2 separate regions of the Homo sapiens genome follow, and region 1 is linked to region 2. The links come from fine-mapping of genetic effects on gene expression. Tissue or cell type: pancreas. Region 2 holds a variant in brackets; the other region holds the start of a gene. All regions are shown on one strand. Distances are from middle to middle. Region 1 holds the start of MIPOL1 (mirror-image polydactyly 1). Region 2 overlaps SLC25A21 (solute carrier family 25 member 21).

The links.
Region 1: MIPOL1 starts here. The variant in region 2 is fine-mapped to the expression of MIPOL1 in pancreas (GTEx, PIP above 0.99).

What each region holds. Positions count from the first base shown.
Region 1 is chr14:37,194,991-37,200,378 of GRCh38, reverse strand. It overlaps MIPOL1 (mirror-image polydactyly 1), which reads right to left and starts at 2,442. Exons shown (of 13, transcript NM_001388067.1): 1 at 2,275-2,442.
Region 2 is chr14:37,162,660-37,168,047 of GRCh38, reverse strand. All of the region lies in intron 1 of SLC25A21 (solute carrier family 25 member 21), which reads left to right. Among named protein-coding and RNA genes, the nearest start is that of SLC25A21-AS1, 6.7 kb to the left of the region's middle. RefSeq lists an enhancer at 1-353. The variant A/G (reference allele first, on the strand shown) is at 2,685.

The DNA of each region.
Region 1 (5,388 bases), 32 kb before region 2:
CTAAAATTTCCATGTGCCTAAAGTTATCTTTTAACAACTGTTTTTGTATAACCCATGAGCTAAGAATTGTTTTTACATATTTAAAGGGTTGGGAACAAAGTAAAGAGGAAAAAAACAGAAAAGAATGTGTAACAGAGACTGTACAGCCTGTACAACCTAAAATACAGGTAGTCCGAGCTTCACACATTACTTGGTTAGCTGAAACTCTACAAAGCGAGGGCTGCCTACACTTATTGTCTGGTCCCTTACAGAAATAGAGGATATCCAAATGCCAGTAAACACATGAATATGTGTTCAATACCATCAGTCATTAGGGAAATTATGGGAAAACCCCAATGTTATGTCACTATATTCCTACTAGAATGGCTAAAATGAAAAAGACAGTGTGAAATGTTGCAAGCATTTGGAGGAACCAGAATTCTCAAGCTGCCACTGAAGTATAAATTGACACAATATGAAAAACTTTTCAGTAGTGTATACCACAAACACACATCTGCCTATCCTGTAACACAGTAATTTTCTAGTAGGCATATACGCAATAAAAATGTACATATGGCCAGGCGCGATGGTTCACACCTGTAATCCCAGCACTCTGGGATGCTGAGGCAGGTGGATCAGCTGAGGTCAGGAGTTTGAGACCAGCCTGACCAACAAGGTGAAACCCCGTCTTTACTAAAAATACAAAACTTAGCCAGGCGTGGTGGTAGGCACCTGTAGTCCCAGCTACTCGGGAGGCTGAGACAGGAGAATTGCTTGATCCCGGGAGGCGGAGGTTGCAGTAAGCCGAGATCGCGCCACTGCACTCCAGCCTTGGCGGCAGAGCGAGACTCCATCTCAAAAAAAAGAAGAAAAAAAAAAGTATACATAATTTCATCAAAATATTTCTAAAAATCTTTATAGCAGCCCTATTGGTAATAGCCAAAAACTAGAAATACTATACATACAGCATGAGAATAACAAACTGCTACATAACTTGAATAAATCTCACAAATAAAATATTGAGCAAAAATCAGAAACTAAGGACTAAATACCATATTACTCCATTTATATAAAGTAAATAATAGGTGAAATTCATTGATAATGTTGGAAGTCCAGATAATGATTACCTTTGGAACCATGAAGTGGGGCTTCCGGGATGCAATAATGCTCTTTCCTGATCTAGATACTGGATACATGGGTATTTACACTTTGTGAAAATTCACCGAGCTGTACACTTACGATTCATGCACTTTTCTGTATGTCTTTATACTTTAAATATTAACGCAATAAAAATATCTCTATAAACTCTACTCCTTTGAAGGAAAATTGTATACATCTCCCATTCATTTTGCTGATTGCCATCATTACCTCCCATCAATGACATGTCTTGATTCCTATTCCTCACATTAAAAATTAAACTGTTTTAATTAATTTTATTGGCATACGATTGCATAGAATGATTATGTAATTGTCATTTTAGATGAACTCCATACCAGATCACAAGGAAAAACTTTGAAACGCCAATAATTTGTGATAGTATATTCAAGTTATCTGGGGAAGAAAAGAACACCTCCTTGAAATGTAGTTTTGTTTGGCCCTTTGTTTTGGCTTATTTCTATCTACTACCACTGTGATTTAACCTGCATAAAATGCTCAAAGGAGCTTTTCCAAACGCGTGTGTTTGTGGAAAGTTGTTCCTTTCTACCATCCTTGTCTAATAATGCGGCTGTCTTGTTCCCTCCATCCATAGAGCTTAAAATGCTTCCCAAACGTTGCACCAGGTCCAGGGACATTGTGAATCAAAAAAGAAAAAAAAAAATTCTAACAGTATCTTTTTACAGCATGGCTTAGCGCGCTTAAAGAAGCCCCTCATTCTTCGCCCACACTTCCACGTGTGAGAAATGAAATATAAAACGACTCTCTCATGGGCACAGAGTCGATCAGAGGTTGAGCGAGGACTGGAACCTTCTGACTAACCGCGACTTAAGGGGAAAAAAACAAAAAAAATACACCCTTGAATAAATGCTCAGCTGCTCAGGTCCAGTATTAGGAAACTGGAGACAATACCAAAACCATACCCAGAAAGAGCTGTCTGCCACCTGAGGACCCCACGACACTGACCTTCGAGAGAGCCCCATCACTCCCGGCCACGCGGGGTCAGCATTCACTAAGTACAGATTCCGCGGGGCCCCTTCTCCTTCTCCAAGGAAAAGTCTGCGGCCGAAAACTCCAGGGCTGATCTGTGCCCACCACTATCATTCTCCGTCGCCCAAACCTCCCTGCCCAACCGTTTACCTGAGATGCGCCTGGCATAGACCGGGGAGTCGACACTGCGCGCTTGCCGAGTTTCTCAGGCCGAGTGCGCAGCCACCGCGTCAGCCAATCGCCACTGGCTCAGAGCCTCCTGGCTCGAGACTCACCCACAGACGATCCGGCGGAGGAGCGGGGCGGCGCGTGGGGCCTACGGGGCGGCGGCGCGCCGCAGGGGAGAGCGCAAGCGGCGAGCACCGGGCATGCGCGTGCCGCGCTGCCGGGCCGCGAGGCGGGGCCTCCAGGAGAAAGAGAGAGCTTGGGAAGAAGGCCCGGGAGGAGTTTGGAGAGAAAGTAGTCGAACTTAGTCTGCTGCGGTGGTTGCCCTAACGGGATGCTTATGGTTGTCGAATCCAAGACGACGAGCGCAGAACGCTCTTTCTCTTCTGAAAGAGCAAAACGTTGTCTGGACAAAACCTAATAGGATTAGAAGAGGGAGAACGCGGAACTAAAAACGGTGTCTTGTGGCCTCATACTTGGCCTCGTCGAGTTTTCCCAAGACCTGTCGAAATTGTGCTTTCCTTCTTTGTGTGTGGTTTGGGATGAGAGGTGGGAGGGACGTGTTTCGAAGCGGCGGTCAAGTGAAAATGGCACCAGATCGGGCTCCGGTTGAGTGAGCAAAAGTACTATCTAGATCCTGGCCAAAGAACGTTTCACACTAAAACCTTGGAGCTGGTGACTTTTTTTTTTTTTTTTTTTTTTGACTGAAGTGCTGGATGAGATTACGATATGTGAATCCTCTAAGAAAAAATGTTAAACCTTACAGAATTTAAAAATGTCCAAAGTTTTCAATTGGCCTACCTCCGTGAACTAAGAATGGTATAATTAACTGCTAGTAATTTAAATTTGGGTTTTTTGTTCCATAGTTCAGAATTGGTTTTATAAATGTCACTTTAACTCCTGTTACTCATGATTCCTTCAGACACCAAATACTTAGTGACCACATACCATGTGCCAGGTACTCTTCTGGGTGCTGAGTAATAAGCAATAATATTTTTTAATACACCCCAGAGAATAGGCATAATATGAGGTGCTGACGGGTTCCTAAATTTGTGGTTAAAGTTAATGAAAGGAACTTATCCTTTAGTAAGTGTACAAAAGAGAGTTTAAAAAACTGAAAAAGGCCGGGCGCGGTGGCTTACGCCTGTAGTCCCAACACTTTGGAAGGCTGAGGCAGTGGGATCGCTTGAGCCCAGGAGTTCGAGACCAGCCTGGACAACATGGCGAGACCTTGACTTTATTAAAAATCAAAAAAATTAGCTGGGCATGATGGTGCATACCCGTAGTCCCAGCTACTAGGGAGGATGAGGTGGGAGAATCGCTTGAGCCCCAGAGGTGGAGACTGAAATAAGCTACGATGGCTGGCGCCACTGCACCCCAGCCTGGGGGACAGAGCATGACGCTGTGAAAACTAACAAAATGGAAAAGTTGGACGTAGATTAACTTGGAACAACAGAGGTTATAATATTCACCAAATTTTCGTTATGTATGCTGTAATGAACAGTGTTCTCAAGAAGTTTGTTACAGATTCAGCTTTGAAATGCTTTTTTCTTTTTTGCTTTACTTCAGTCAGGATTTGAATCATATTTATGAACATAAAGTACCATAAAAATCTATGAGACAAAAACAAAGAGTGTACAGTTTATCAGAGCAAATACTCCAATCAGGAAGTATATAGCTTGTGCAAAGGCTTAGGGCCAAATCAAATTATGTGTAAAACAAAGGAAAAAGTTGATTTTCCTGGCTAGGAAATAATAAATAAAACAGGATAGTGACTACCACAATGAGAACATTCAAACCATGTAATGAATTAGTAGAATAAATTTAGAGAAAAATTATAATATTTTTCATTGAGTAAAGTTCATTTCCTCCTTTTTTTAAAGCCCATTATCTGGGTGCTTACAGTCTCTGGCATAAAGAGAAACCTCATATTTTCTTTCCTTTTAGTAAGCTGATTTTCTCTCTCTCTCTCTCTGTTTTATGCAGTGAGTTCAAACATTAGGACTAATTCTCCCTATTCTTTTTCCTTTTTCCCTAACATACCTGAAGTAACTCATTAATGTTCTTTCCCTAAACTTTTGATACCACAACAGGTAAGTTTTCCCCTACTCCCCTCCACCACCACCATAACCAACATATCCATTTCTTCATTTTCTATTGTTCTAACAGTTGCCTGTCTATAAGAAATGAAAGAGATAAATTAGAGCTTTTTTCTTTTCTCAAAATGATTATCAAAGATATTGTCTATGTCCTCATACCTCATACAAGCTGGACTTTTACAGAAATATGGATGAAGATGAGAAGAAGAAAATGAACCACTCTTTCGTTACAGGGAGAAAAAGAATGTCATATTATTAATATTATCAAGTCTGTTAATGTCAGATCATTAATATTCTCAAGTCTATAAATATTAGGCTTCTGCAGTGTGTCACACACTGATCAGTTCTGCAAATAAAATAATGAATAACAATTAGGCACACAAGTAGCTGAGAATACCATATGTATTAATCAGGGTTCTCCAGAGAAACAGAACAAACAGGATATGTGTGTATACACAGAGACTACATAGAGAGAGGGACAGTGATTTATTGTAAGGAAATGGCTCATGCAGTTGTGGACTTTTAGTGAGTCCAAAATCTGAGGGAAGAGGCGGGCAAGCCTCAGAAAAGAATTGTAGTTGGACATACATGGAATGTAATCTGTTGTATTCAAAGTCTGGTGATTTAAATGGTAATCTCATCAAAAAAACACCTTCACAGAAGCATCCAGGATAACGTTTCACCAAATATCTGTGCACCATGGCCCAGCCAAGTTGACAAAATTAACCATCACACTGTGTAAACTGAGAAATGGCTTTGGGAGAGGGGAGTTCAGGGGATGAGGAAGACAGAGTCAGGAAAATCTGAAGGAGATAATGCCTCCTGTAGTATGAATAAGACTTAGCAAGGTGAAGAGGTGAGGGTGGAGGTGCAGAGAAAACAGAATTCCTTATAAAGGAATCAATATGGGAGTGAGATACTGTAAGGAGCTATAAGCAATTTAATATCACAGTATAAAATTTAACATGGAAAGTGGTGGGAAATGAAGTTGGAGAGATTA
Region 2 (5,388 bases):
TTCACCTTGCCTGCTGCCTAGACCGAGCGGATTTATCAAGACAAGAGAATTGCAATAGAGAAAGAGTAATTCACTCAGAGCCAGCTGTGTGGGAGACTGGAGTTTTATTGTTACTCAAATCAGTCTCCCCAAGCATTAGGGGGTGGGGGGAGCGGTGCAGCTAGAGAGTCAGGAGTGCTGATTGGTCAGGTCGGAGATGAAATCATAGGGAGTCGAAGCTGTCTTATGCTGAGTCAGTTCCTGGGTGGGGGCCACAAGATCACAAGAACCAGTTAGATCTAGGTGATGCCAGCTGATCCATCAAACGCAGGGTCTGCAAAATATCTCAAGCCCTGATCTTAGGCTTCACAATAGTGATGTTATCCCCAGGAGCGACTTGGGAAGGGTCAGAATCTTGTAACCTCCAGCTGCATGACTCCTAAACCATAATTTCTAATCTTTTGGCTAATTTGTTAGTCCCACAAAGGCAGTCTAGTCTCCAGGCAAGAAGGGGTTCTGTCTTGGGAAAGGGCTGTTACCATCTTTGTTTTAAACTGTAAACTATAAATGAAGTTCCTCCCAAAGTTAGTTTGGCCTATACCCAGGAATGAACAAGGACAGCTTGGAGGTTAGAAGCAAGATGGAGTTGCTTAGGTCAGATTTATTTCACTGTCTCAGTTACAATTTTGCAATGGCAGTTTCACTACCATATCGGAATCTGCGTTTTTGGAAGGGCCCCAAGTCATTGATTTGCACTTTAAAGTTTAGAAGCACTGTGTAGAAGACCTTTGAGAAAAAAAGACTCTATAGAGGGGGAAGGTCAAAGCCAAATTGCGCAAGTGAAATCTTTCTTGGTTTTCACTGCTGACCAGACAGAAGAATGAATTTCATACTCCCTGTTATATGCCCTCAATTTAGCTTTCAGTCTTATTTTTCAACCCTCTCCTACACATTTTGTTCAGTTTCTGCTGAACAGGTCTGCCGGCAATTCTTGACTGTTACCAGTACTTTACACCTTTATTCCTGATCCCCTAGAATGTCTTACCCCTTACTTTTTTTCTTTTTTGAAGCTAATATTTTTATTTGTATGGAGATAAGGGAACAATCTGATTCATCAGGTTTTCTTAACTGAAAGACTAGAGGCTTTCGATCCCTGTTAGAATATATAGCAGGATTAGAAGGTAACTGGTGAGATATTGTGCCAAATAAAATACAAATATTTCCTCTCACTAATTGTTTGCCTAATGGCTTCAAAACACCTACAAAGAACTTTCCTAGCTTCATCAAGAAGATATATCTCTACCTATTGAAATTCCATCCATTTTCCAAGGCCCAGATTGAAAATGATTTTCTGCATAAGTGTTTCCAAGATGGACTCTACAGTCCACCCAGCTTTAACATTTTCATTAGCATATGAATGATGCAAATAATAAAATAAGCTAATATTTATTGAGTAAATACTAAATGCCGGATCCAGTTCTAAGCTTTACATGTGTTAACACTTTTAATCCTTTCCACAACTTCACAAGGCAAGCACTATAATAATCCCCACTTACAGACGAAGAAACTGATGCGCAGGGGAATAATGAACATGCCATAGTTGCACATACATGCAACCATTTCTATAGGAGTTGGAAAGACGAAGTCAAGTCTACTCTTATAATCGCTGTAGCTGTAATTAGTTTATATTCCTTAAAATAACTGTTTTACCTACAAATACAATCCATACAGACTTTCCATTAAGTAGTACCTTGCTCACTCCAAATCATTTCATCTATCTAGGCAAACATTATCCTTTAGCCAAGAGAAAATTTAGTTATTTTACTTCTCCATCCATTCAGGGCCTCTACATGTAGTTGGACACATTGTGGACTGAAAAAGGGATCTGGACATGAGAGCAAGTAGGAATTGAAATCTAGCACATGCTCTGCTCCGTGATTTGTGCATCCTAGAACAGACGTGTTCACTTGGGGGAAGGGACACCTTTTTCTGTTTCTCACAAAGACACCAAATGGATTGACATAAGGTCTGACAGAATTCCCCTAAACATGTTAGGGATCCCAAGATCTCTGGTCTCAGCAGCCCCTGCATATGACATCATTACTCTGTCTGCATATCAACAGGGCTCTAGGAGGCTCCCCTGTCATGTACTTGATCAACTCTAACTTGGAGCTAGGAGCATGGGTCCATCTCAGACTTTCCCATTCTTCCTAATGATCAGTTTGGACCCTTCCCTGTGTTCCCAAAGACCACGGGGTAGTTCTTATTTCCCATGTCATATAAGATCAGGCCCACTCAGATGGTCATTCTCCCCAGACTCTCACAGGGATTTTGTACCCAACCTCAGAACCTCCCAGGGTCTGTGACAATGTTATCTTAGCCCCCTGAGTGGTCCTGCTCTTACTAGGACCTGTCAGGCTTCCTCCTGAGGTCACTCCTAAGCCTTGTCCACACTGAATTTTCTTCCATAGTGGCAACTCCAGGACCCTCCTCCTGCCTCCCAGAATCTTTTACTCATATTCCCCAAAGTCTGCCAGTCCCACTCTGAATGCCTTCTACAGCATTATCACCTTCTATATATCATGCATGTGAGATCACCATCCTGGCAAGACTGACTTATTTTCCAAAATTTCCAGGTTGCTGTTTCATCCTTTCCAGCCTTACCTTAGTCCCTGGTATCTTTTTTTTTTTTGAGACGGAGTCTC[A/G]CTTTGTCACTCAGGCTGGAGTACAGTGGCGCAATCTTGGCTCACTGCAACCTCAGCCTTCTAGGTTCAAGCGATTCTTTTGCCTCAGCCTTCTGAGTAGCTGGGATTATAGGCACCCACCACCATGCCTGGCTAATTTTTGTATTTTTAGTAGAGATGAGGTTTCGCCATGTTGGCCAGGTTGGTCTCAAACTCCTGACCTCAAGTGATCCGCCCGCCACAGCCTCCCAAAGTGCTGGGATTACAGGCGTGAGCCACTGCACCCAGCCAGTCCCTGGTGCTTATAAGCACATCTCCATCAATTACTCTGTTTTTACTTTGTGCATCTCCCTGCAGTTCATTGCTTTCATTTAAATTCATTGTTTTAGTTCAAAGTTTTCTGGAAACAAGTTTTCCAATCTTGCACTAAACACAGTTCAAGTACTTTGTGTAGTGTTATCTCATTAATCACCTTCAAAGAGTCAAATAAGAGTGAAATGAAAGACTTTTTTGAGGGAGGGAAATCTGGAATTAATGAATAGGCTTTTGGGAGATTAATTATCTGAGAGTATATGCAAATGCTGTGATATTTTAATAGGGAGAGAGTCCAAGGCTTTTAACCTGAAAAGGCTAATAAAAAGATATAGGATGTTTTCAAATTTCTTACATATCTTCATTTTCACAAGATTACTCCTTTTTCTTACTCTAATAGTTAAAATACAGTTAAAATAGATGCCTTAATAGTATGTATACTAGAAGTCCTTTGGATTTTAATTTGAACTACGTAATAAAAGGGCTGATACACCAGGGGGTAATCAAGGTTAAAATTTTGATCAAGGAAAATTCTTTTGCAAAATGGTGCAAAGGGGATGCACGTGTGATTTGGATAAATGGCACCTTTGGAAATTCAGGATTTGGGAAACTGTAATTGTTTGATAATAAATAGCAGGTTGTACTGAAACAGGTGAGCCTTTATGACACATCAAAGGGTGGCTGGAACCCATTATCTGGGTAATTAGGGAGAAAAAAATAACCCTTATTTCAAGCACATAGGAGGAAGCAACCCTATTGCTCGAATTAATTATAAAATACCTTTAAAGGATGTATTTTAAGTAAAATGTAATCTTGTCTCTCTTTAAGAAAATCTAGTTCTCAAAAATCAGAATTTAAGAACAAACAAAATATGAGTTGCATACCACATTTTAAAGGATTTCTTATTTTACTCTACCTTCCTGAAAGATGTTTTAAAAGTGTAACTACCCTTAATATGTGGCTATATGATTCAACTGACATAAAACTTAAAACAACTTTTATACAATATTTTAAAAACATGTGGTTAAACCAGCCCTTCCTCACCTCCCTTTTGCCCCCAGCCTTGACTACAGCTTCTTAGGGTATTGAGAACCAGGTGTTTCAGAGTATAGCAAGTAGGGGCTCAGAAATGTTTGTTGATCATATTAACAAATAAATATGAAAAGTCTAAGCCATAGAATATTCTTAGGTTCCTACTCTGAAGACAGAAAAATATTCAGGGATTCTAGTCATTAGATAATACTTACAACAATACTGTATAAATGATTTATACATTTTAAAGTGTTATCATTCTACTCTGCTATCAAACATTGAATTTATTCCTTCTCTCTTCCTGTATGTTTATACACTTTAACCCACTTTTATTCATCCTCCCCACTCCTCCCAACTCACCCTTCCCTGGTGGTATCTTTAAAATGGCAATGAATGAAAGGAACCAGGTTAAAGGTGCAGTATTTTTACAGTTGTACTAGATTTTGATCGATTTTTCTTACCAATTTCCTTTTTTTGTTTTCATTCTCATATTGTTATTGTATCTAAATTGGAAGATAGTTATTTTCCAAGTGATTAATATCTTTTATTATGTTTGTGTCAATTATTTTGACACTTTGATGTTATCATGGTTTATACACATTGTAAATATTCTATCAGATATGTATTTTTTCATTATTATCTGTAGTCCTTATATAAATTTGCTGGGGTTACCAGAAAAATGCACCACAAACTGGGCAGCATAAACAACAGAAATTTCTTTTTATTTATTTATTTATTTATTTATTATTATTATACTTTAAGTTTTAGGGTACATGTGCACAATGTGCAGGTTAGTTACATATGTATACATGTGCCATGCTGGTGCGCTGCACCCACTAACTCGTCATCTAGCATTAGGTATATCTCCTAATGCTATCCCTCCCCCATCCCCCCACCCCACAACTGTCCCCAGAGTGTGATGTTCCCCTTCCTGTGTCCATGTGTTCTCATTGTTCAATTCCCACCTATGAGTGAGAATATGCGGTGTTTGGTTTTTTGTTCTTGTGATAGTTTACTGAGAATGATGATTTCCAATTTCATCCATGTCCCTACAAAGGACATGAACTTATCATTTCTTATGGCTGCATAGTATTCCATGGTGTATATGTGCCACATTTTCTTAATCCAGTCTATCATTGTTGGACATTTGGGTTGGTTCCAAGTCTTTGCTATTGTGAATAGTGCTGCAATAAACATACATGTGCATGTGTCTTTATAGCAGCATGATTTATAGTCCTTTGGGTATATACCCAGTAATGGGATGGCTGGGTCAAATGGTATTTCTAGTTCTGGATCCCTGAGGAATCGCCACACTGACTTCCACAGTGGTTGAACTAGTTTACAGTCCCACCAACAGTGTAAAAGTGTTCCTATTTCTCTA